3 separate regions of the Homo sapiens genome follow, and all the other regions are linked to region 1. Evidence: fine-mapped expression QTL. A gene starts in region 1. Each other region holds a variant in brackets. All regions are shown on one strand. Distances are from middle to middle.

Region 1 (8,487 bases):
TTGGACTCTGACCACAGAACTATGAGCAAATACATGTGTTGTTTTCAGCCACCAAGTAGAAATTTGTCACAGCAACAACAGGAAACGAATACACCCTCCTTACAAACAATAACATGAGATCTAGAGTGTTGCCCAAGATTTGAATGAGCTTTGCTGACTCCAGATTCTAAGCTCTTACCTCTCATGCTGCTCTATCTGTTACATGTGTCCTAACCTCTCCTGCCTTTATGATTTCCCCTTAGCCAACTCAGGCAGGTTTAACAAATTATATAGACTGGGGGGCTTAAACAGCCAACATTGATTTCTCAGAGTCCTGGAGGGTTGAAATCTGAGATCCGGGAGCCAGCAGGAGCAGGTTCTTGGTGAGGGCTCGCTTCCTGGTTTACAGACAGCCACCTTCTCATTGTGTCCTCATGTGGTGAAAAGAGATCTCTGGCCTCTTCTTTTAAGATATTAATCCCATTTATGAAGTCTCCATTCTCATGATCTAATCACTTCCTAAAGGCCCCACCTTCTAATGCTGTCACACTGGGATTAGGGTTTAACATGAATCTTCAGGGGACACAAACATTCAGTCCATAGCACTTTCCCTTATGCTTCCCCTCACCCTGCTTCTTCCACTGCTGCTTATTTCCCCTTCCAATCATAAGTATTTCTGTCATCTCCTCACATCTTCGTGTATATGCTGGAGGCAGCATATAAATAAATATATCGGTGGGTGTTTGTGGTTTGTGCATGGAGTGGAGTCTCTGGGCTTTTGTAACCGTGGGACTCGTGATTTAGCAAACCCAAGGCCCTGACTGTGTTTGCTCCTCCTTTTGCTTTAGTAAAGACAGTGGCTCTCTTCTTTCCTGTGTCATTGACAGTTGGCCAGGCCAGGACTTCTGCTTTTTCAGAAAACTGCTTACTTCCTAGTCAGTATTCAGAGCCCAGTAACTGCTTGTGAAGTTTCCCTTCTCCTCAAGGTTATCAAGACTGCGGAAATGATGTCAACTTAGGCCTTAGTGGTTTCTTTCCTGAATTATTGCTCCACCTGGAGAAAACCCTATTTTCAGCCTCAAATAGCTTCCAATTCAAAATCTACACTCCTGCTTACTGCCCGAGGATCTTTCCAAAATGCAACCTCCTGGCCAAAGGGAGGCAGCCCGCCATTGTCTGGGGTCTTGCTCATGTCTTCCACTTCCTCTTTCAGCCCTTTGTGTTTTCAGCCCTCCCGCAGTTCCCTGAACCCTGTGCCTGGTCCCATTTTCCTGCCTTCACGCATGTCATTGTCTCTGCCAAACTTCTCCTCTCACCCCTCCTTTAGTCCACTTTGCCTGCTGATTAAACTCTAGACCACAGGGAGTTTTAGAGCATGGGTTCTGGAGTCAGGCAGGCTGGGGATCAATTTGTTTTAATTCCATCAATAGTTCCTCAATGTCTTACCTTCTCTGTGACCCTGGGGATATAATTCTGCCACTATTAGCTGTGTGGCCTTGGAAAAGTTCACTAGTCATAACATCTTTATCCCTCAGTTTACACATCTGCAACATAAGAATGATGCATGTAAAGTACTTAGCCTGGTGGCCTCCACCAACATGAGGTGTTATCATTAGTATTTTCATCAGTCTTTAAGCCTCAACTTAGGCTTGGTGACTCCTTTTCCAACAGATCCAGATACCAACCTCACCATCGTCTGACTACTATGTCCCTGGTGCACAATGCCTGCCTTCACTACAGCCTTTCACACAAAGCATTTACCCTGTTGCTTAATTGTCTGATCGTCCCACTCCCTTGGATGAGAACTGCATCTCTTCCATCTCTTATTCTGAGTGGCTTGGCTAAGACATTCACTGACTCCATGGGGAAACTTCACCTACAGAGGAAAGAGCCATCCTCCTGTGGGCAGGTGATGTGTCCTTGTTCTTTCCCTGACGTGCCCAGTCCTCTTGCAAGTGACTTGAAAGGATGCACCAGCCTGGCTGCAGGCAGAGGGTGAGTCTGGGAGACAGATCAGCTGTGGCAACCTTTATGCAAGGATGAATTGGAAAAACCAACCCTGACCAGTCCATTTATCTCACATCTTGCTTCTCATCCTGCACTGAAAATGAATGGGATACTAGTGGTCCTGACGCCATGGGAAAACCTAGAGTGACAAGATCAGCACTTCCAGCATCCAGTCGTTCATTCTCTTTTACTTATTTTTAATTTTTGTGTGTGTGTGCACTTCAATGTCCCTTATTTTTAAAAGTGAGGTCAAATTGAACAAATGGCCCTGGTGACTAGAGTGACCATCTGGACCTCTCTGGGCAGCTCTTTGGGTGGCAGTTGTAGGATCAGGTACTTGCTCAAGCACTGCATCCTCATCACTCCCCAGCTTAGAGTGAGGCCAATTCAGATGCTTAATCAACTTCTCTTTTCCATCTCCTGTAGTTCAAACGGCATTTTGCCCCCATCTCCCTCCAAAGTGGCAGATATCACAATGCCATGCGTTTGCACAAGCCAGTCCCTCTAACAGCAGATGTGATCCTGAGGCTGGGCTCCTGAGTTGCTCCCCACTTGGGAGCCCTGTATGGGATGAATTGCATCCCCTCAAATTTATGTATTGAAGTCCCAACCCCCAGTACAGTACAGCCCCCTTATCCAAGATTTCACTTTCCAAGGTTTCGGTTACTCTCAGCCAACTGCAGTCCAAAAATATTAAATAGAAAATTCCAGAAATAATTCATTAGTTTGACATTGAGCATCCTCCTGAGTAGCATGATGAAATCTCGTGCTGCCCAGCCCACCAGGAACACGAATTGTCTAGAATATCCATGTTGTCTCTACTACCGGCCTGTCCGTCACTTAGTAGCTGTCTCATTTATTGGGTCCAAAAACCATAGTATATGTAGGGTTCAAAACGATCTATGATTTCAGGCATCCACTGGGAGTCTTGGAACGTATTCCTAGCAGACTGGGGGGGGACTACGGTATCTTAGAATGTGACTGTATGTGGAGATAGGGTCTTTTTTTTTTTTTTTTTTTTTTTTAAGACAGAGTTTCGCTCCTCTTGCCCAGGCTGGAGTACAATGGCACGATCTTGGCTCACTGCAACCTCCACCTCCTGGGTTCAAGCAATTCTGCCTCAGCCTCCCAAGTAGCTGGGATTACAGGCGCGTGCCACCATGCCCAGCTAATTTTATATTTTTAGTAGAAACAGGGTTTTTCCATGTTGGTCAGGCTGGTCTTGAATGCTTGACCTCAAGTGGTTCACCCTCCTCAGCCTCCCAAAGTGCTGGGATTACAGGTGTGAGCCATCATGCCCTGCTGGAGATAGGGTCTTTAAAGAGCTGATTAAGCTAAAGTGAGGCCATGGAGGTGGGCCCTAATCTGATATGATTGTGTACTTATAAGAAGAGGAGATGAGGACACAGATGTACACAGAGGGAAGAGCACATGAGGAGACAGGGAGAAGATGCCACCTAGAAGCAAAGAAGAGAGGTCTCAGGAGAAACCAGCCCAGCTTCCAGAGCTGTGAGGAAATAAATCTGTTATTTAAGTCCCCAGCCTGTGGTGGTTTGTTATGGCAGCCCTAGCTGACTAAGACACAGCCCGATTGGTTGGTTCTGACACTTCTTACCACAGTTCACTGCATTCTCTTCACTGAATTGCAATTATCTGTTGGCGTATTGGGTTGGCCCGCTGGGGTGACAGGCCTGGCATATGCACTTTTATTATCTCTAGCACTGAGAAACCCTGGCATTGATAGCTGCATGCGAAGTGCTTGCTGAATTCATGAGAGCTACTGCTGCAGTGAAAGCTCTGAAAGTGTCCAGAGAGGGACAGGAATCTTCTCTTTGGGCAGAAGTGATCTTTTCACTTCACTTGCAAAGTACATCAGATGGAAAGGTAGCCCAGGTGTACGGTGTTGAGGAAGGGCCTACTGGAAGCTGCTTTTCCTAATTTTCAGCTGGTGAGGTTTGATGATTTGGTAGACTCACTGATCATTTTGTTCTTTTTTGGGTTCTGTGGTGTTAGTAAATGGCTATATTTAGATTCAATTTCTCTTTCTTGTACTCTTTGTTGTTCTGCCATTCTCTTCCGCTCCCAGTCCTGGCCCCACCGCTCCTTCTTCCAAAAGCTCCCAGTGGCCCTCCCAGACCTGCTGCAGGTGGAGAAAGTGTTCAGCTGCTGGTCCCCTCTCCCCTCCCACCCCAACTCCAACTGAGCACTAGCGGCTCACATCTGTGGGCCTTGCTTTCCCCATAAACACACATGGGTGTACTGCAAGGGCTTACCGCAACTCTGGTAGAGCACTTCCAAGCCGCTGTCGCTACAGACCACGTGTGTGGGCCAGGCTTTCCCACCGCCGCCTCCACTGCAGCTGGGAAAAATCAGAGTCCAGAGGAAGAGAGTGGCTGTGAAACCCTTCATGGTGGGGGCCTGTATGGGACACACAGAAAAATAACCGGCCAATAAAAAGCCTGTAAAATTTCTTCCTCTCCCCTCACCAAGGCAGTTGGATGTTCAGTTTCACTTCTCAAATTTTAGACTCGCTGGGAACCACAGTCAGAAGTAAAAGGCTGAGAGCAGAGGCATTTGAATACTGTTCCCCCAGGACCTTGAATCTACAGGTGTGGCTGGTCTGGTCTGGGGTAGGATGCGTGCTGACTTTCTGCTTTCACAGGGAGAGGGTCAGTAGTGATGCGTGAACTTACCTCTTGGGGGCCCCTCAGAACAGCCTCCACCCCCAGGTGAGGCTGTAAACTTGGGAAAGACAAAGCGCAGGCCACCATCTGTTTCCCATCTCCAGCCCCCGAGTCTCTGCAGGCTCTTGATGCAGGCTGTGTATGGACCCAGGGACCTGGCTGCAGCCAGCAGGCAGCAGTTGATAGCACGAGGGCTACAGAATGACATTTGGAATCTGGAATGAGGCTTTGGCCCTATTGTCACTTTCCTCTCCTCTGGCTTTGGCTCTGCTCTTAGGTTTGGGATTTTAGCAGTGAATTGTCCAGCTGCAGAACAGACCTTGTTTTGGGAGCTGCAGATGTGGTCTCTGGAGATGAGGCAGAGGCAATAGCCCTGAGAAGTGAGCCGTGTTCTATTTCTGGGTTTGGCTTGGTAGAAAAAGTAGGAAGGGTGGGGAGGTGGGGCCACCCTTAAGGAGGCTGGTTTGCTGGTTTTGGTGTTAGTGGGATCATTGACATCACATCTCACTTTCTCTTCAAAGCCAAGATTCTGTCTTCCTTCTTCCATGTATCTCTATTCTGCTGCAGGACAGCAAGGTTTCTCAGTCTTGATTCCTCAACCCCGCCCCAGCTTCACCTTAATGTAAGAGGACCAGAGTCAGTGCCAAGGTCAGCAGATTTCAGGAGCAATAGAAAACACTATTTTCCCTGGGAGGAACAGCATTTTTCTGAATGCACTAGGTAAATTTACTATTTCTGCTGATGGCTAAGCAAAAATTAGAGTTAGCTCAAAACTTTTTTTGAAATAGGTGGAACATAATTACCAATAAATTAATTGGTAAATAATTTGGATTTCTTGATAGACATCAGAGAGTGGTCATTTGGAGAAGGAACAGTTGTGGATTGATTATTTTTAGGTACCTCTGCAAATAAGTTCAGTGATGATGGCTTTCAACAGCAGTTCTCAAAGTGCGGCCTGGGAAGATGACAGCCTCAGCTTCCACTGGGGGCTTGTTAGAGATGCAAATTCTGGGCTACTCAAGACCTATTAAATCAGAAACTCTGGGGGGCGGGACTCACCATTCTGGATTTTCACAAGCCCTCCAGGTGTGCCTGATGCAGTCTCAAGTTTGAGAACTGCTGGCTTTTACAGAACATAAAGCGAAGGTTGAGCCCCAAGGGAGTGGTGGGAAGTTGCTCTAAGAAGAGACAAGGTGGCCCCTCTGGCCTGTGTGAGCGGAAGGCAGCTGCGCTGTGAGCAAGATCTCGGGAGATGAGAGTCTGAAGCTTATGGTGAGAGCAGCGGCCCTGGTGGAAGCGTGGTAGCCCCTAGAAGGTCCAGGATGGAACACAGAAGCTTTCCCTTGGGATATGTGAGTGCTCCAGCAGTTGTAAAGAGAGCTCTGAACATATGTGAGTGAGGAGAGCAATTGAGGGTGAGAACTTCCTTCCCTGCAAAGTGCGTCATGATTGACACTGGAGGAGGAGTCCAGGAGTGCAGGGCAGGGAGCAGAAAACCTAGCAGAGAGCTGTGGGCAGCTGTGGCAGGGAAATGGTCTTAGTATGTTCTGGCTGCCATAACAAATACCTTAGACTGGGTGGCTTAAATGACAAGCATTTATTTCTCACCATTTTGGAGGGTGGAGGTCCAAAGTTGGAGATTAAGGTGCTAGAAGATTCAGTGTCTGGTGAGGGGCCTCTGGTTCACAAATGGTGCCTTCTGGCTGTGCCCTCACATGGTGGAAGGGGCGAAGGGTTTCTCTTAGGCCTCTTTTATAAAGGCACTAATCCCATGTATGAGAGCTCCATTCTTATGACCTAATCACCTCCCAAAGGCCTTTCCTCCTAATACCATCACCTTGAGGCTTAGGATTTCAACATATGAGTTTGGGCAGGGCCACAAACATTGGCTTTATTGCAGAAACAGTGTCATCTGAAGACAGGGGTACAGATTCTTGAGAATCAAAAGACCTGGAAATGAAAGGAATCATAATTCAGGGATCGCACTAGCATTTAGAAATATTCCAAATGGACCAATCAGGAACCTTGTGATCATGGTGACCCTAGGACATTGGTCTTCAGGCTAGAGTGGTCTTCAGGGCATCAGCGTCAGCTGGGGGGCTTGTTAACATGCAGATTGCTGGACCCCACCCCAGAGTTTCTGCTCCTGTGTGTCTGGTGAGGCCTGAGAACCTGTGTTTCTAACATGTTCCCAGGTGATGCCAGTGTTGTTGATCTGGGGCCACATTCTGAGGACCTCTGGTTTAGCTTACAGAATTTGATCATTTGCAGAATGTACAATTAAAAAAAATCTTCTTAATAAAATGTTTTGTTTTATGACAGATGGCATTTTATATAACACATATATAACATACCCATATAGGATTAAGAGTAAGCCACATTCTCTAAGGAATTCTACTTACTAGTTCTGCCTACTGAAAATGGGATTTGATTGAAATCATTAGTTATGGCCGTCTAGTTCAGAAATCAACCCATAATGATGTCTGGAGTTCTTTAACTAGAACCTTTATAAAGACAGCCAGAGTGTTCTTTGAGAATGTCCTATTCCCTAATTATAGAATAAAATTAGAATCGGTTTATGGTAGTTATTTAAAATATGGTTATGTCTACGTAATGGTAACCAAACACACACATACTGTCAGGCTTTGATGCTGACTTCTAATCTCTTAGCAGGCTGTAGCTGAAGAAGCTGTGCTCTGGTCTCATTCAGATTTCTTTTCTACTTTTTGGACAATCCTCCTCTTCTTCCATGTCTCACACTGCTCTCCTTCATATATATATATATATAATTTTATTTTATTTTTTTGAGACGAAGTCTCACTCTGTCACCCAGGCTGGAGTGCAGTGGCATGATTTCAGCTCACTGCAACCTCTGCCTCCCGGGTTCAAGTGATTCTCCTGCCTCAGCCTCCCAAGCAGCTGGGATTATAGACGTGTACCACCATGTCCAGCTAATTTTTGTATTTTTAGTAGAGACAGGGTTTTGCCGTGTTGGCCAGGCTAGTCTTGAACTCCTGACCTCAGGTGATTCACCCACCTCAGCCTCCCAAAGTGCTGGGATTACAGACGTGAGCCACTGCACCCACCCTTGCTTTCCTTTCATAGAGGTCTTCTTGAGGACGGTGCCTTTCTTTTCTTGCAGAGTAAAAATATTCTTATCAAGATGACCATCCCTAAAGCCGTTCTTAAGGAGAAAATGTTTGTTTGAGGAGAGACTTAAAGAATCAAATGTGAGACTCTGGGGGCAGGAGTCCAGCTATGTATGTAAGCAAGTAAGGGTGAAGCTGTGCCACAAGAGAAAATACAATACTCCAGGGAGTGAGGGGAGAAAAAAGAAAGGCCTGGAGGGGAGAGAGGAGAGGAGAGGAGGAGAGAAGGGGAGAGGAGAGATAAGCAGGTGATTGGCTGCTGTGGAGTGGAGGGAAGCAGCCTGCCAGCAGGTGGGACAAGCAAAGGTCCCTTAGGAACAGATTCTGCATTGCTTCCTGTGCAGTGTGCAATGTGACAGCCCTCTCCACTCTGTGACCCACAAAAGGTCAGGGAAAGGGGGTTTGGGCCAATGTAACCTACATTACATGTGCCAGTAGATGGCAGACAGTCCTAACTAGTCTTGACGCTACACAGTGATGATGTAGCACTCTGTCTCCAGTGGCAAATGTACCTTCCTCATCATTTGTATCCGACTGTGGGTGCTCTCCTCTCATTTCCCTCAGATCTTTATTATATTAGGCAAAAATTTCCCTTTGCATAGCGCTGCTACTTTGGTTTTTTCTCTGTGGCCTGTCTGAGTTTCTGCCACACTGCAGTGGGAAGAGAC
Region 2 (8,000 bases), 46 kb before region 1:
GAATTTTTAATTTAACTTAAATGTAAATTCTTCAAATAGCCACATGTGACTTGTGGCTGTCATATTGGACAGTGCAATTCTAGATCAGCACTGGCTAAGAGAAATATAATGTGAACCATATATGCGACATAAAACTTTCTAGTAACTATACAAAAAAAGGAAGAGGAAATAAGTGAAATTAATTTAGTAATATATTTTGTTTAACCCACTTATTAAAAATATTACCATTTCAGCATGGAACCAATATAAAGAGTCTTAATGAGATATTTACATTATTTTTTTCATACTTTGTACTAAGTCTTCAAAATCCGGTGTGTATTCTGTACATTTCACTTTGGACTGGCCATGCTCCTAGTACTTAATGGCTGCAGGGGCCAGTAGCTACTGTCTGGATGGTGCCGACTATTTAGTCGTTGCTGAGGAAGCGGGGCCTAGCAGGGAAAATGACTTTTTCAGTGGCATTCTGTCTGCAAGCCCTGTTTGTCTGCTGTCCAGCTTCCCCCTCTGAGAGATACCTAACTTCCAGCAGCAAAACAAAAAGAATTTAAGTTTTTTTGTTCCACCTACCAACCAGTTCCTAAATTTTGTGGACAAATACTTCATACGACATTCAAAATACGACTTATAAATTGGTGGGCTGATTAGATTCCTAGAAATGGAAATGAAGTAGATGATGATGGAAGCAAAGAGAAGAAATTGACTTGATCCTCAGAAACCTGGGCAACCCTGGGAAAGAGTAATGCGACTGGAAAGCTAAACAAACAGACATCACAGAGGGCTGCGTTTCTCACACTGGGGGGCTCCGGGCTCACACACTCAGGGCTCTCGGGATGTTTAGTTTCTTAAAATGCAAATACCAGCAGCTCTGGGATCCAAGTGGGTGATGTGGGGGAGTCGTGAGTTGGCCATCTTAATTAGCTTCCTAAACGATTATTACATCAAAGTATGTCACTGAGCTGGATTTATGAAATTCCATAACGGTCAAGGATTTGTAAAGAAGTTTGTCTTAGAAAATTAAAAGTATTTCTGGTCCTAGGTCATCCTTAGTCATAGTATGCTGGGCTCAAGGAACATAAAGAATTGACTGATGTCAAAGTACAGTTGCAGCATGGTTGGCTCATTTACAAACATGCTTGCATTTGAGGATGGGGAGAAAGCACCCAGGGCTCTAGAATTCCTTAAAAAACAGTATGTGGCCAGGTGCGGTGGCTCACGCCTGTAATCCCAGCACTTTGGGAGGCCGAGGTGGGCTGATCACGAGGTCAGGAGATTGAGACCATCCTGGCTAACAAGGTGAAACCCTGTCTCTACTAAAAATACAAAAATTAGCCGAGCGTGATGGCGGGCGCCTCTAGTCCCAGCTCCTCGGGAGGCTAAGGCAGGAGAATGGCATGAACCTGGGAGGCGGAGCTTGCAGTGAGCCGAGATCACATCACACTGCACTCCAGCCTGGGCGACAGAGCGAGACTCCTTCTCATTAAAAAAAAAAAAAAAAAAAAACCAATATGCTTCCTTTCATTCCATTTAGCAAGAAAAAGTACTCTTTTGCTTAGTCATTGCTTGTACCCTCTAGAGGGTGGCTACTGCTTTTAGTTCTGTTTTTTTTTTTTTTGCAGTTCGAGGGTAGGAGTTCGGCTAATGCAATAAGTAAACCATTGTTTTTGGTGATTCTGCATGAATTTGCTGCAGCAGCAGCTGCCTGGTATTTACAAGCAGGAAATCTACCATTGAAGTCTGGAGACAAGGAATAATACATGAAAGGAAGAAAGGAATGAAGGGGAGATGATGGTGCTTCAAATTTCCAATTCCATGAGAGATGCAAATGACACTCTCTCCCCACAGGGACAAGAGGGCCAGGGAAACTTCGCCTTGTTCAACCATCAGAAAATATGCAGGCTTAGACCAAAGGCATCTTCCTGCTACCTGTAAGGAAAAGGTCTTAAACTTCTAAGCCTCAATGACTCCACTGCCTCTTCATGGGCCTTGTTAAAATGCAGACTTCCAGTCTGAGACAGATGATGACTTGAGGGGCTCAGGGCCCTTGCTTGAGAAACCTGTCATCAGCTGCACAAAGTTGCTGCCATGGATCACTTATTGAATGCTTGCTGTGTGCAGAACGCCATTCTATGGGCTATATGTGTATTATCCCATTTTATCCTTATGACTATCCCATGAGGTCACTTGTATTTTCTATATTGTACAGATGACGAAACTGAGGCTCAGAGAGATTAAGTTACTTGTCTGAGTTCACATAAATGGTAAGTGGCAGTAAAGATTCAGCTCTATGTAGGTCTGGCTTCAAATCTTGTGCATAACCACCAGGCTAGAGGTTCTCAAAGTGTGGTCCCTGGGCCAGCATCATCAGCCTCACTGGGGGACTTGTAAGAAATGCAAATTCTCAGACTCCCCACCTGATGTACGAAACTGGAAACCCTGGGGCTAGGTCCAGCAACTGTGGTTGAACCTGGGCTCCGGGTGATGCTGATGCCTGCTCAAGGTTGAGAACCACTGGACTGGGCTAAGGTCTCTGCTCTCCAGCGGCAGCACTGCAGTCTGATGAGTCAGGGGACAGGAAATGCTTCCATAATAATATTGGTTTTGGTAACATGCTGCCTGCAGCTACAAAATGACAGTGGGGATAATAATGGCAGGTGAAATAGTGCAATTTTCCAGGTCACAGAAAGCTAGCACTCCCTCCATGGCTCTATAGATCCATCCACGAGAAGAGGAGCCAAGGCACATGAGTTCCCATCTCAGCCACTTTGTCACTGGGGATACTGGCAGCAGTTGAAGGGCAGGACCAGAAGCTAGGATTGGGGAAGGTTGGGAATGAAGTGCGGGGATGGAAAGCCTGCAGCTTTTGAAGGAGCAGGAAGTCTAAAATGGCCCAGAAATCAAAGGTGAGCAAACAAGTATAACATAGGTGATACCCTAGAAAACATGTACAGTAGACAATAGTCCCCCTTATCTGCAGTTTCACTTTCTGCAGTCTCAATTACCTGTGGTCAACTGTGGCCTGAAAATGTTACGGTATTTTGAGAGAGAGAGAGAAAGGGAGAGAGAGAGTGAGAGAGAAAGGCAGAGAGGAAGAGAAAGAGGGACCATACTCACATATTTTTATTACAGTAAATTGTTATAATTGTTCTATTTTATTAGTTGTTATTGTTAATTTCTAACTATGGCTAATTTATAAATTGAATTTTATCATAGGTATATGTATATATGGGGAAAATAGTAAATATAAAATTTGTTACTATTCATGGCTTTAGGCATGCACTGGGGGTCTTGGAACATGTCCCTATCAGGTAAGAGGAGACTACTGTATTTTTAAATTTAGGCTTCTGTTAAGCTGCTTATTCCCCTTCTGTTATAGCCTAAATCAATGCCTGAATTCCTGGGCTTGCATTTGTTAATGTATGTGCAGTGAACATGAAACAACTGAATCATGAAGCCCATGGTAGTGGGGCCATGGCTGGGAGCATGCTTTAGAGAGGTTGTCAGGTCATCAGCATAGATTAATTTCTTCAAGTAGCACCTGCTGGGAAGGTGGTTTAGCCCTGTCTTCTACTCCAGCAGCGCAGAGGGTAAGGCATTTTGCAGAAAGCATTTGTGGATTTTTTCCAAATCTAGGCAGTAAACAGATTGCATTCCCAGCACTCCCCCCAAATTCCCTTCATTTCCTAGATCTGTGGAAAGGAGCACATTGAAACAGAAATAGAGGAGGCCATAGAAATCTAACTGATGGGATCTGACTGCTGATCTAGATATTATTGTTAAGACAGAATTTTGAATTGATGCAGACAGTGAGATTGAGAAGGCTCTGCAATGAATGATACTGGGAGGATCACAGGTCCTAGTGTTCAGCATGAACCAGGACCAGAAGAGAAACATCTAATTAAGAAACGTAATGAAAAGGAAGGGAAGATGGGTAACCACAAGCACCCACCGTGGTTACACCTTTGACTTATTTGTATGTATAAAATCAGTGAGCATTACAACAGAATCTCTTGGATGCTGTCACAAAAATATCTGCCTTATGGGCAATATTATGCCAG[A/G]CTTTAAATACAGTTCTCAGGGGATCTACTCTGTTTTATATTGAAATTCATCTCATTATAATGTATTTCTCACTTCGGTCAAACAGTAGGAAAGTTCAGATTTACACAAAAGATAAACCAGGGACCAGTTATTTTCTCAACTAGAGGATTCTTCAGATTGCAAAAGGTGTCATCATATTTCTTTTAATTGCAAGCTTTAAATATTAATGCATTTAAAATCAAGTTTAAACCTAATTATTTTCTCTAGCTTGCATTTGCACACAGGGAGGTATGTGTATCTGTTGAATGTGTTTCATAATGGATTTTGCTCATACTGAGAAGTGGCTTGTGCAGGCATGGATGCGCCATGAATCAGCAGTTCTTGTGGGCACCATTATCTTCTGCACCTCTCTCGGATCCTGACATGAATAAGGCATAATTAAGTCCTCTCAGGTTTTCATTGGTTGAATTACATCAATCGCAGCTTTCAAGGTCTCAAAGAAGATTCCTTGACCTACAGATACTCTAATTCATAATCATATACACTCAGTGTATACACACATGCACACACACACACAATTTATTTAACTCGCTTAAGCCTTTAATTTCAGTTGATTTTGGCAGTAGGTTGTGTACAATTGATATCTGCAAGTCAGTCTGTGAATCAATACACAAATTATTTTTGAAAGAGTATTACTCACTTGGTGTTATGGAACCAAGGCCACTTTGCCTGGGTTGATCTACCCTGGTCAGAACTCATAGAAATTTGGCCAGAACCAGGTTTGATAGTTGACATGTCTCTTATTATCAAGTGTGAAAATCATGTGTTCCTTGGACACATTGGGGCAAACAACACACACTGGGGTCTGTTGGAGGGTGGGGGATGGGAGGAGGGAGAGCATCGGAAAAATAGCTAATAGACGTTGGGCTTAATACTTAGGTGTTATCATGGGATGGTATCACAGATCATCATGGGATGATCTGTGCAGTTATTCACCATGGCACACGTTTAACTATGTAACAAACCTGCACATCCTGCACATGTACCCCTGAACTTAAAATAGAAGTTGGAAATAATATAAAACAATTTTTAAAAAGAAAGAAAATCATGTGTTCATTCTATTTACTTTATGGCTTTAATCTGAGTCTCTACCCAAATCGCCAGGTTCACTTCCAGTTGAGAACCTCACGTCTCCACGGCCCTACACAATATATTCTTGACAGTCCAAACATGAGCCACCTTTAAGTCATTTCTCTCCACTTTTTAATTGGGTAGAGCTTGTGGAGCAAGAATGAAGTGTTGCTTCTACTTCCCAGGGTGATACCTGAGTTTCAGGCTCCACAGTACATCTTACAACCAAATTTTGGCTCTATTTAACTTATTTCACTTTCATCTTCCTGACGTGGAATATTCTAGGAAACTGCTTGAACAAAATGAACCTCATTGAGAGTGGACATCAACATGTGTTGAACGCTTGATAAATCAGAGACTGAAAGAGACTGGAGTGAACTTGACTCCATTCCAAGCTAGACAGGGCTGTGGGTGTCTCATGTGTGGTGCTGGTGAGTGCTGACAAACCCAGACTTTGGGAAAAGTCTTTATGTCAGACTATTGTGGGCTAGGGTGACAGATCACACTTTGATAGATGTCAGGTTCCCTTGAAGGGAGTAGACATTCCTAAGATTATGCATTCTGGATGGAAGTCAAGCCAGTGGTAGAAAATAAAAATTTTAGAGGCTGACCTTAGATCAAAGGAAGAAGACAAAACAGAACAGAACAACATAGCCATGAAAGACTTGTTCAGTTACTGGTCAGGAAATTCTGGGATCCTGAGCAGGTTGGCAGTGTGAGATGTTATGGACTGGCTGCTCCTCTGGCTCTATGGTGAACCAGTTTGAGTCCTCTGGCCTGTTTCTATGACAGACCCACCAGAGTTTATCAATCAGCCCTGCAGTTTTCACAAAATGCTCCAACCCTCTGCCTCAAGGTCCCTCGGGTAGGGGAGGAAGCCCAGGGACTCAGTGCTGTGATTTCTAACGCGTCAGACACATCACATATCTTATTTAGTCTCCACTCTTACCCAATAATGAATTATGGCCACTCTCATTTGATAGATGCAGTAATTGAGAAATAGAGAAATGTAATGGCCCTCCAGACTGTCCATGGCAGCTGTGGGGAGGGAAGGAGACCTCCAGGCCTGCTCTCTGGCTTTTTCCTAAGGTGCTCTTCCTCCTGCCAGCTGCCACTCTGACCAGCCTATCTGTTAAGTCCCTTTTGCCCCAAATCTAATTTTTTGGCACAGGTCTTATAAAGCAGAGTCAAAGCACAGGTGTGGCATTGTCCTTGGTGTCCTGGATCTGAATTTATGCTGCAGCTCAGGTCAAGTGTCCACCTGGTGACAGCCCCCGCATACCTGTGCTCAGTAACTCTGGCTAAGAGCCCTGGATTCTGACTTACCTTCTAGCAGTGGTTCACAAAAGTTAACATGCCACAGAACCACTTAGAGCAGGACTGATCAGTCAAAAGAAGAATAATACTTCACCACATGTAAGAATTAAATGAAATTTAAATTTCAGTGTCCATAAATTAAACAAAGCCAAATCAATTATAAAATACATGCAGCAGATATAGACATACCTCACTTCATGTAATCTGGGCACACAGCCATGTCCACTCATTTTCATATTATCTCTGCAAGGGAAGGGTTGAGCAATTGCCACAGAGACCATATGGTCTGCAAAACCTAAAATGTTTACTATCCTTCCCTTTCCAGAAGAAAGTTTGCCAACACATGGCCCAAAAGGCTTGTTAAAATACAGATCACTAAGCCCCAACCCCAGAGCTTCTGATTCAGTACGTCTGGGTAGGGACCAAGAATCTGCCATTTCTAATAATTTCCTAGATGATGCTGATGTTGCTGGTCTGAGGACCACACTTTGAGAACCACTGCCTTATAATAATGGCTGGTTATGCCCAAAGATGATCCTTTGATTTCTATAATTTTGTTATGCCCTTTAAATCTTTTTCCGGTCTTAGTGGAGGGCTGAAATGAGTTTACTTCTTCTCTAGCAAAGCTTTCTTTATGTTTACAGAAGATATACAGCAGAGGGGTTTGGAGCTGGACAGAAACCCAGTTCCACCCCCCGCTGGCTTTGTGACCTTGGGTAAGTTAGACTCAATTTCCTCATCTGATAAGATGAGGGTGTATGTAGGAAAAAACAGTTTTTTCCTCCCATATTCTCAACACAGAGCACTTCTGGTCACCACCTGGCTTGGCTCTCACTCCTAGAGATTCTGATATCATTGGTCTGGGGTATGGCCTGGATGTTGGGAGCTTCAAAATTATAAAGGGAGATAATAATGCAGCGCTGCCAGTAAAAACATTAAAGAGAGTCACACATATAATTTTATGTTTTCTAGGAGCCACATTTTAAAAGTTGAAATTAATTTTAATATAATATTAATATCTTATCATTGATAAATGATTAAAATAATATATTAATGATAAATTCTACTTAACTCAGTATATTCCAAATATTAACATTTCAACACATAACCAGTGGAACAATGATAGAGATATTTTACATTCTTTTTCTAAGACTAAAGCTTTGAAACTGAGTCTGTACTTTACACTTACAGCACATCTCTATTCAGACTGGCTACATTTCAGGGCTCAGTCGCGACCTGTGGCTTGTGGTCATTGCTTCAGAAAGCACAGGAGCAGTTAATGTGCGACCAAGATGGAGACCCACTGGGGTAACGGCGCGCTTGGTGTTTGCAGACCAGACCAAAGCTCCCGGATCACACAGGGGTTCTATCGGCATTGTTGTTCTTGAGGATTGAGGGAGTTGGCTGCAGCTTCCCTCCTTTGGGCTAGGAATTAGTTGTGGTCATTAAGGACATTCAATGAAGCTCAATTTAGTCTTAAAAGTGGATGTGTAGCTTATGGAACCTGTTTGAAAGCA
Region 3 (8,000 bases), 35 kb before region 1:
GCTGAAGAAGGGAGGAAGGGAGGGAGGGATGGGGGAGAGAAGGGAGAGAAGGAAGAAGGGGAGGGAGGGAGGAAGGGGAGGGAAGGAGGAAGGGGAGGGAGGGAGGGAGGGAAGGAGAAAGGACTGACTGTGGTTGAGGAGCTCGGGGTTGGCCCAGCTGAGGGCAGGTGGAAAAAGTTAAATAGGGACGGACTAATGATGAGTTCACCATTCTGAGGAAATGCATGAACGTACTTGATTAATCAGAAATGTCTCCAGTAAGTTGAGAGAGGAAAACTGACTTATGATTTTAAGGTGGGTTAGCTAAGAAAAAAAAAAAAGTCCCAATTTGAAACAAAGTCAGATCACTGGGCAGAAAGATTTCTGAAATGATAATTTTAAATAAACCCCTTGGCCAAAAGCAAGACACACTCATTTGTTGTATTGTTTGTTCTTTTATTCATTCATTCATTAAAGCTAAGATTGGAGTCAGCCTGCCTGGGTTCAAGCCATGGATCCTTCAAGCTCTGTGACTTGGTGCAAGTTCCTAAACCCCTCTGTGCTTCAGTTACACATTTATGAAGTTGGAATATTAATGTAGTATTAACTTGTAAGGTTGGTGTGGGAAGTAAATGACTTATTGGGTCTAAAGCTCTTAGAACAGGGCCTGGTACGAATGCTCAATCGTGTTAGGCATTTTGCTCTGCGTGTGTCTGTATTCAGAGCTCTCTGTGTGTCAGCCACATTTGAAATACTGGGAATAAAAAGACAAAGGTGATATGACCCTACCCTCAAGCAGCTCGTGGTCCAATGTGGAAGATACACGGCAGTAAACCAGGACAGTCCAACATGGCAAACGCTAGGATACAGTGATGTGCCACACACTCGGGAGGGATGGCGAGGGTGGTGAGGCAGCCAGGCTGGTTCTGCCCTCTACAGATCCCAGCAAAGTTCCCCCGACTTCCATCTGGCCAATCCTCCCTTAAGTTCCTTGTTTTCTTTTGTCTGCATCCCTCACTGTAGAAAGGAGATTCCAATTTCTTCTAGATCTTTCATTTAAAAGGAGTAATTGCAGCATTTCACAAGGAATTTACTGTTTAAAATTCTAGCTCTCTTGAATGAGAAAATAGATAAAGGAGTATTTCTGAGATGTGGGGTGAGGGGTGTATTGGGGGTATGCCCTGCCTTGGCCAGTGGGAGTAGGAAGGAGACCCTGGGAGGGGAGAGCAGCTGGGAGAGAACCACTCCTGGGGAAGGACAGTCAGAGAATAGAGCCAGGTTTTAACCACACCGCGGAAGCATCTCAGGGCCTTGGTGAAGCTGTGGGTAAAGACAAGGAGGAAAGGAGAGGTGGGGACAGGTGGGGGAAGGTGACCTGCCCTTTCTTCAAGGCTGTATGGCAGGCGGTAGAGGGTTGGTGCACTGCCGAAAAGGTAGCTAATATAATGGGGTTTCCGTTTCTCTACTTCGAGTGTAACTCCCGGATGCCCTGCTAGTCAATGACCCACGTGGGAAAGGTGGTGACATATCATAAGCTTCATTTTTTTTTTTCGTTTTTGAAGTCCATTACTATATTAAGGACATCCTGCCACTAAGGAAGTTGTGGAGGGAAAACCTGGGAGCACTCTGAACCTCAATGGATTTTTGGAACCTCTTGGCTCTTTCTGCTGCCAGCCCTTTTTTATAAGATGCTGCTACTCACAGTAACAATGTTCTGTTTTAAAGCATCTCATACGTGTCATTTCATTTTGATATTCACAACAGCCCTGTAAGGTAGGCCTATGGAATGGGCCTTATTGTTATTTTTCTGCAACACATGCTGATAAGTGAGGATAAGCTCGTCCAAAGGCGAGGGGCAGAGACAGAGCTCTGGTCTGGGCGTCCTGGCCTCAGATGCAAGTTCGAGTTTATCTCTCTGCAGGCCCCTGCCAGCAGTGAGCAAGACAGATGGCTTACCTCCTTTCCTTCTTCCACAGAAAGAAAACTTGGGCAGAGCCGCCTCACAGATGGGATAGGAGAAATTCAAAACAGATGAGCCTTGAGACATGAGAGCTAGGTCAAGAAAAAGCTCTTTGATGTCCTCTCCTGGAGGAAAGAGAAGAACAGCTTTACTCTTACTGCGTGTTTCACTGTGTATCAGAGGCATTCACAGTATACAGCAGCATGAGCTAAAGAACCTTTTGTTTCCATTAATCTTCTCTGTGTGGGGAACAGTTTTCTTCTTTCCTTGGTAAAACAGCATTTAGGCAATGCTACAGGGGATTATGATGGGGCCCTGCGTATGAAAGGTGGCTGTTTCTCAAAATACCTGCTTGGAACAAGGTAGTTAATCAGCTGAGCTCCCCACCCTGATGCTATGGCCTTTTAATGTGATGTCTGCAGGTCTGGCTTCTGGAATTTCTCAGTTGCATAGTATCATTTGTTCCCCATGATGGCGGTGGGGTGTGGTCACGCCTACATACACCTGCTGCTGTTGCCAGGGAGGTATTGCAGCACAGGTGCACAGGAAGCTGCAGCGGGTTCCATGGTGGTGGCTTCCAATTCTCTCTTTTTCTCCATTCCTCCCTTTTATGTTCCACCCACTCTTCTATTTCTCTTTTCTCGCTTTTTCTCTCCCCATAACATTTCTCCAGCTGCTGCTAGAGTCCAGATACTGTGTAAGATTCTAGAAATACAAAGATGCGTGAGAGTTCTTGATTTCTATGAATGTTCCCTCCATTTCTCTGGAATGATTCCACATGCTAAGTTTATTAAACCTCTCTACTTTGATTTTGATATAACTGCTTTGGAAAAGGAGGTCGTCTAGTAGCTATAGAAAATATATTGACCAACTATAATTGCATGATCATATGAAAATTAAACAATCAGAAAGTGCTCTAGCTTACTGATTGGGGTAGGAGAGAAAATATTACATCTCCTCCTTGCCGATGTCAAAGTTTAAGAATTTGTATTAACTATTTGGGATACAAAATAACACAAATGACAAACCGTACCGCTGGTAGTAGATTTATTTGTTGCTGAGATAACTAAAAAAGTTAGGAGATCCTGAGTAGACATTAATACTTAATCTCAAAATATTTTCCTTTTTTTTTGCTGGGTATACTGATTCCAGGTGCTTATATCATCCAAATGAGTGCCTAGAGTCTTTTTAATACAAAAGTACAGCTTTAAGTGAGAGTTCTACCCTACCTGAATATAACCCAGAGAAAGATTTGAAAATGAAGATATAAATAGAGTTAATTCCAGAGAGTGGTGAGGGAACAGTAGTTTAGCCAGTCATTACAGTTAACATAAGTCATTGGGTGTGTGGAGTTGGAAGAGGCTGTGCAATGTTTTATTTCATGCTAATCATTTTTTTTACTTACTCAGAATAATTCCAAATCTAATGTTGATATTTGATTTTAATTGCTTGGA[A/T]CACTTTTCAACAGAAAAGCCAAAATCTTGTAATGGATCTACGAAGAAGAAAACAATAGATTAGTTGCGAGTACATCGTATATTTTGCAAACATATTCAAAATTTGCAACAATATTGTTTTCACATGAATTGCTACATTTATTCAAAAGCATATTGCCCAACACTTTTTAAAATAAGCCCATGATATTTTCATCAGCTCCCCCCCGTGTCTTCAAAGCCAACATCATGTTCACTCTGACAACAGGGGGCCTCCATCCATGGAATAAACAGGGTCTTGCTAGTTGGGTTATATCTTTACTTGTTAATGTTTTTATCATAGAAAATGTTTATCATTGCCTGAATTTTTTTAGTTCCTGAACGTTTGGCCTTAAAATTGCTCATGGATTGCATAGCGGATTTAATAAAGTATCTATTATTATTATCAAAACAGAGGGAGATACAAAAGTTAGGAGAGCTTGAGTAGACATTAATACTTAGGCTCAAAATATTTTCTAAAAAGATTTTCAAAGTTAAGACCTGCCTTTCTAATTCCATTTTATCCCATCCCATCCCAACCCATCCCATCCCATCCCATCCCATCCCATCCCATTTAATGTAATGCTTCCTCCTCCAAATATTCCACTATGTACAAGGTATTGTGTTAGATATGATAGGGGCTATAAAGATAATATTTTCTGCATACAACTTCTGCTCATTCACAAAGCTCCAATGGCTTATCTATGCCTCAGAATACAGTCCAGAAATGAGCGACTGGCTCCAACTTCCATCCTCCACATCACAAATCCATCCTTCATTCCTTGAGGCCAGAGTGGCAACATACACACCAGCACATTCCCACCATGTTTGATTTGCTTGTGTGCTTTCTCCCATTTGCAATGGTCTTAGTCTTTTTGGCCATTATCTAAATCCTCAGGTCTTGCTCATTCCCATCTTCTTTGTGAAGGCTTCCCTGCCCCCATATATTCTCTTGCTTCCTTGAACTCTTAAAACAGCGATGTCTGGCATTCTTGGTAAAGTGTACAAACATGTATCACTCTGCACTTTGCTACGTGGCTTATCCTGCAACACTGAATCTAAACATGAGATTTCTTAAAGGCCAGAGCTGGTTTCTTGTTTTGTTTTGTTTGTTTTGCTTTCCATTTCCTTTTCCTTTATGTTTCCCACTGGACTGGAGATAGGAGAGCTATTTTTAACAGAGGGTTTACCTTGTACTAATAGCTGAGCCTTGTACTTTAGGAGTGTTTTCCATTTAATTCTCTAGGTTCCCCAACACCTAGCAGAGAGCCTCACAGCCTCACAGTCTGATCCACAGTAAGCACTCCATAAATGTACATGTTGAGTGAATGGATGGGCCATATATTGGGGCTGTTTCTCAGCTCCAAATCCAGCCCTCTTTCCTCTGCTTTTTCACTGGGCTCTCGGTAATCATGTTTCTCCTTCACTGTCTGCCAGTCAAGGTAGCAGAGAGATGGAGGCTGGAGTCGAAGAAGGGACTTGCTCCTTCGTGAGTACTTGCTGGGAGTGTCACTGGTGATGGCCCATCATGTTGGCAGTGGCAGTTGGTTCCAGTTTCCAGCTCTCTTGCACCTTCCCAGCTTCAGCTGAGACTCAGCTCTGCGGGGCCCTAAGCTACTGCAGTAACAGCACATCAGAAGCTGTCACCCTTTCCTTAGCAGCCTGTGTCTCAGCTCCACAGGGTCCTTCTGTCAAGCATCCAGTTTCTAATCCCCACAACCTCTGCCTTTTGCTCTCCCAGCCTTCAGGGGTCCTTTCTTTGCTCTTTTGGTTCTCCAGCAACTGGTTCTCTAACCAACTTCCTATATCAAATTCTCTCTGTTAAAATAACTGATATGGTCTTCGTTTTCCTGACAGCACCCAGACCTGCAGAATAAACAATAATCTGAAGAGATAGGTATGATTTACCTCATTTTACTGTTACGAAAATATAGACTCGGAGATGTTGTATTAACTTATCTAGATCCCCACACTAGAAAGTGTCAGAGTCAAGATTCAAAGCCAGAGTTAAAACCAAACAAACAAACAAATTGCTCCCGGGTATTGTGCAGTGAAACTCACAAAGTAGAACCTCAACTACATATGTTACTTATTTGATTTGTAAGATTGCCCAGAATATTTTGTGTGCAGGCATATGGCATCTGGTAGTTCTGTTTCATAACTGATTTCCATTTCAGCTTAGCTATGAGCTCACATTTGCCAATGTAGTGTTCCAGACAGTTTTATCATCCACATTGCTGACCTGGAAGATGCATCATTGTCTATGATATCTGCAATGGAAATGATCACTAGGCAATTTCAGCCTTGCAAATCTAACGTAAGTACACTTTTGTTTGATCAAAACCCCTTTGGTCCAGTCACTAATTTTCCTAAGGGTGGGAAAGAGCCCTTTTGTCTTATGCTCATTGGACTCCTTCCTAAGTATCTCTGTGCTGTCCCAGGGTTTCTTTCAGCCTGGAAAATAGGAGCAGGGGGTTGGAGACGATAGTTCCTGCTACATCCTTGGCACTCAGTATTGAAAAAGACAGAAGCCAATGAACAGATGCTTAGGAAGGTGAATCCTCAAAATTGTGGATAAATTTAAGTTGCTATCCAGGCAAAATAAAAGAGGCTAAGTACGTATTGTGTTGTTGATTAGCAGCTATAGAATTACACTGTATGTTTATCAATATTTTAAAGGTATAGATAGAAAGAATCAACTAAGGGCGGGAGAAGGAAATAAAGCATTTTCTTGGTACTAGAAACACATTGTTGTTAGGAAAATAATCTCAATAAAGAACAAAGTCACAAAGAAAGCTGTAGGCTGCATCTCTCTGAGGATATGTATATAAAAGCAGAAAGACAGATTGCTTAAAAAGCGCTTAAGGGTTTGGTGAGCTTTCCTAGCAGTTATTTCAAATTTATATGCAAGAGTGATATCTTTGAGTGTAAACATGCAGTTTGTGGTCCTCTTGGGGAAAGTGACATTGGTTCTTCCTCCTCCCCCAACCCCACCCTCTCAAACTCATATCCTTCTCTGTATTTATTTGCATTTCCACTCAGGCACTTTGCATGTTTTATATTACATTATATTTGTTTGTATACCTCTGTCATTCCTCCACTAGATACTGCAAAGCTAACTCCCCAGTGCCAGGGCTATACATAATGTCTTAATATCATACTAAATCTCCAGTGATTGTTTGCTGGATGAATAGTAGTGGTTATTTGTAGTAAATTTGCCGAGAACCTTAAAGCAGGATTCCTCAATGTCATCACTATTGACATTTTGTTTTGGATATCCTTTGTGGTGGGTGCTGTTCTGCACATCATAGGATGTCTAGAAGCATCCCTGGTCTCTACCCACCAGATGCCAGTAGCATCCCCATACCCTCTAGTTGTGAAACCAAAAATATCTCTAGACCTTACCAAAGTATCCATGAGGGATAAACTCACCCCTGGTGGCGATCACTGCTTTAAATAATCACTGTATCAATTTCCAGGCTTTACCTATCCTGCAAATGCCTCAGAATCACCTACCAATATAAAAGATGGTAGGTTGCATTTTAAAGTAGTTCTCCTTCTACAGTATGAACAGTGACGGACAGGCTGAGAGCGGAGAGACTTTCCCTTGGACCCTTGCCTCAGTAACTTTTAATACATGTAAGACGGATCATCTGACTTTGGACTTTCTGAAGCAATAACATCGGAAAGTTAATCAGAGTTGGCGTTCTGGGAATTCAAGGGCAGAGATAAGTGTTTCCTCCAGATACTTCACTGTATTTCAGCAAATGACCTGAGGAAAGAAGTCAAAACTTCATCACGAAATAGAAGACTGTTCATTTTCAATATTTCTTCCTTGGCCTCTATGTGGCACTCCCTTGCTGTCTGTCCTGTTGACTTCTATGGCTTCCACCCAAGGGAGGACAGCATTATAGTGGGTGAATCCAGCACACCCCAAACTGCCCCTGCTCCCCTCTCCCCCGGGCATGTGGGCCCTCGAAGGCAGGCTTCTCCAAACCAGCAGCATGTGAACCCTGCCAGAAGTGAGGAAGAGCTCTAGGAGAGCAGCCAGCAGCATCTGTTTTGCATACAAAGGGCAGCAACAATCAAATCTCTTCTAGAAAAGTTTTCTTGGACATTCATGGAGTAAAATAGAGTTGGATAAACAAGCCAGGTTTAGAGTGAGCAGCGTTTGAACAAATATCAGCTCCAAAGGTATTGTTGTGCCTTCCACCCTCCATTAGTGGCCTAGGCTGGGCTAGACCTGGGCAGCTGTCGAGGGGAGGACAACCTTGTCAGAATGGCTTCTATTAACAGCTAGCAGTGGGCTTTCAACTGGAATCAGTAGGAAGAAGACAAAATCCAATGACACAGACTCTGGAAGTGAAATTCCTCAGCAGAGGATGGTGGGGGCCCGGGTACACTCCACTGGACCAATCCTTGATTTGACTTCAGGCAGCCGGAAAGCTTGGATGTATGTCCCTAAGTCCTGGAGGCCATGGATGTAGCTCCGCCCCCTGTGGCCTCTGCGTTGCTGGCTGGTTAGTTTGAGGCATAGAGGAGGGCCCAACTCTTACACAGCTAGTCCCATTTTCCATATTCTAGCTCTACTT

What was found. PIP is the estimated chance that this variant, and not a neighbour inherited with it, causes the effect.
Region 2: its variant is fine-mapped to the expression of LY86 in whole blood (INTERVAL, PIP above 0.99).
Region 3: its variant is fine-mapped to the expression of LY86 in whole blood (TOPMed, PIP above 0.99).

The regions. Positions count from the first base shown.
Region 1 is chr6:6,584,643-6,593,129 of GRCh38, reverse strand. It overlaps LY86 (lymphocyte antigen 86), which reads right to left and starts at 4,410. Exons shown (of 5, transcript NM_004271.4): 1 at 4,260-4,410. The coding sequence starts at 4,395. The region is part of intron 1 of LY86-AS1 (LY86 antisense RNA 1); the gene reads left to right. RefSeq lists enhancers at 5,884-6,013, 6,024-6,113, 7,938-8,047.
Region 2 is chr6:6,630,505-6,638,504 of GRCh38, reverse strand. All of the region lies in intron 3 of LY86 (lymphocyte antigen 86), which reads right to left. Among named protein-coding and RNA genes, the nearest start is that of LY86-AS1, 12 kb to the right of the region's middle. The variant A/G (reference allele first, on the strand shown) is at 4,056.
Region 3 is chr6:6,620,357-6,628,356 of GRCh38, reverse strand. LY86 (lymphocyte antigen 86) reads right to left here. Exons shown (of 5, transcript NM_004271.4): 2 at 3,345-3,431; 3 at 1,936-2,064. It overlaps LY86-AS1 (LY86 antisense RNA 1), which reads left to right and starts at 5,531. Exons shown (of 8, transcript NR_026970.1): 1 at 5,531-5,725. The variant A/T (reference allele first, on the strand shown) is at 3,394.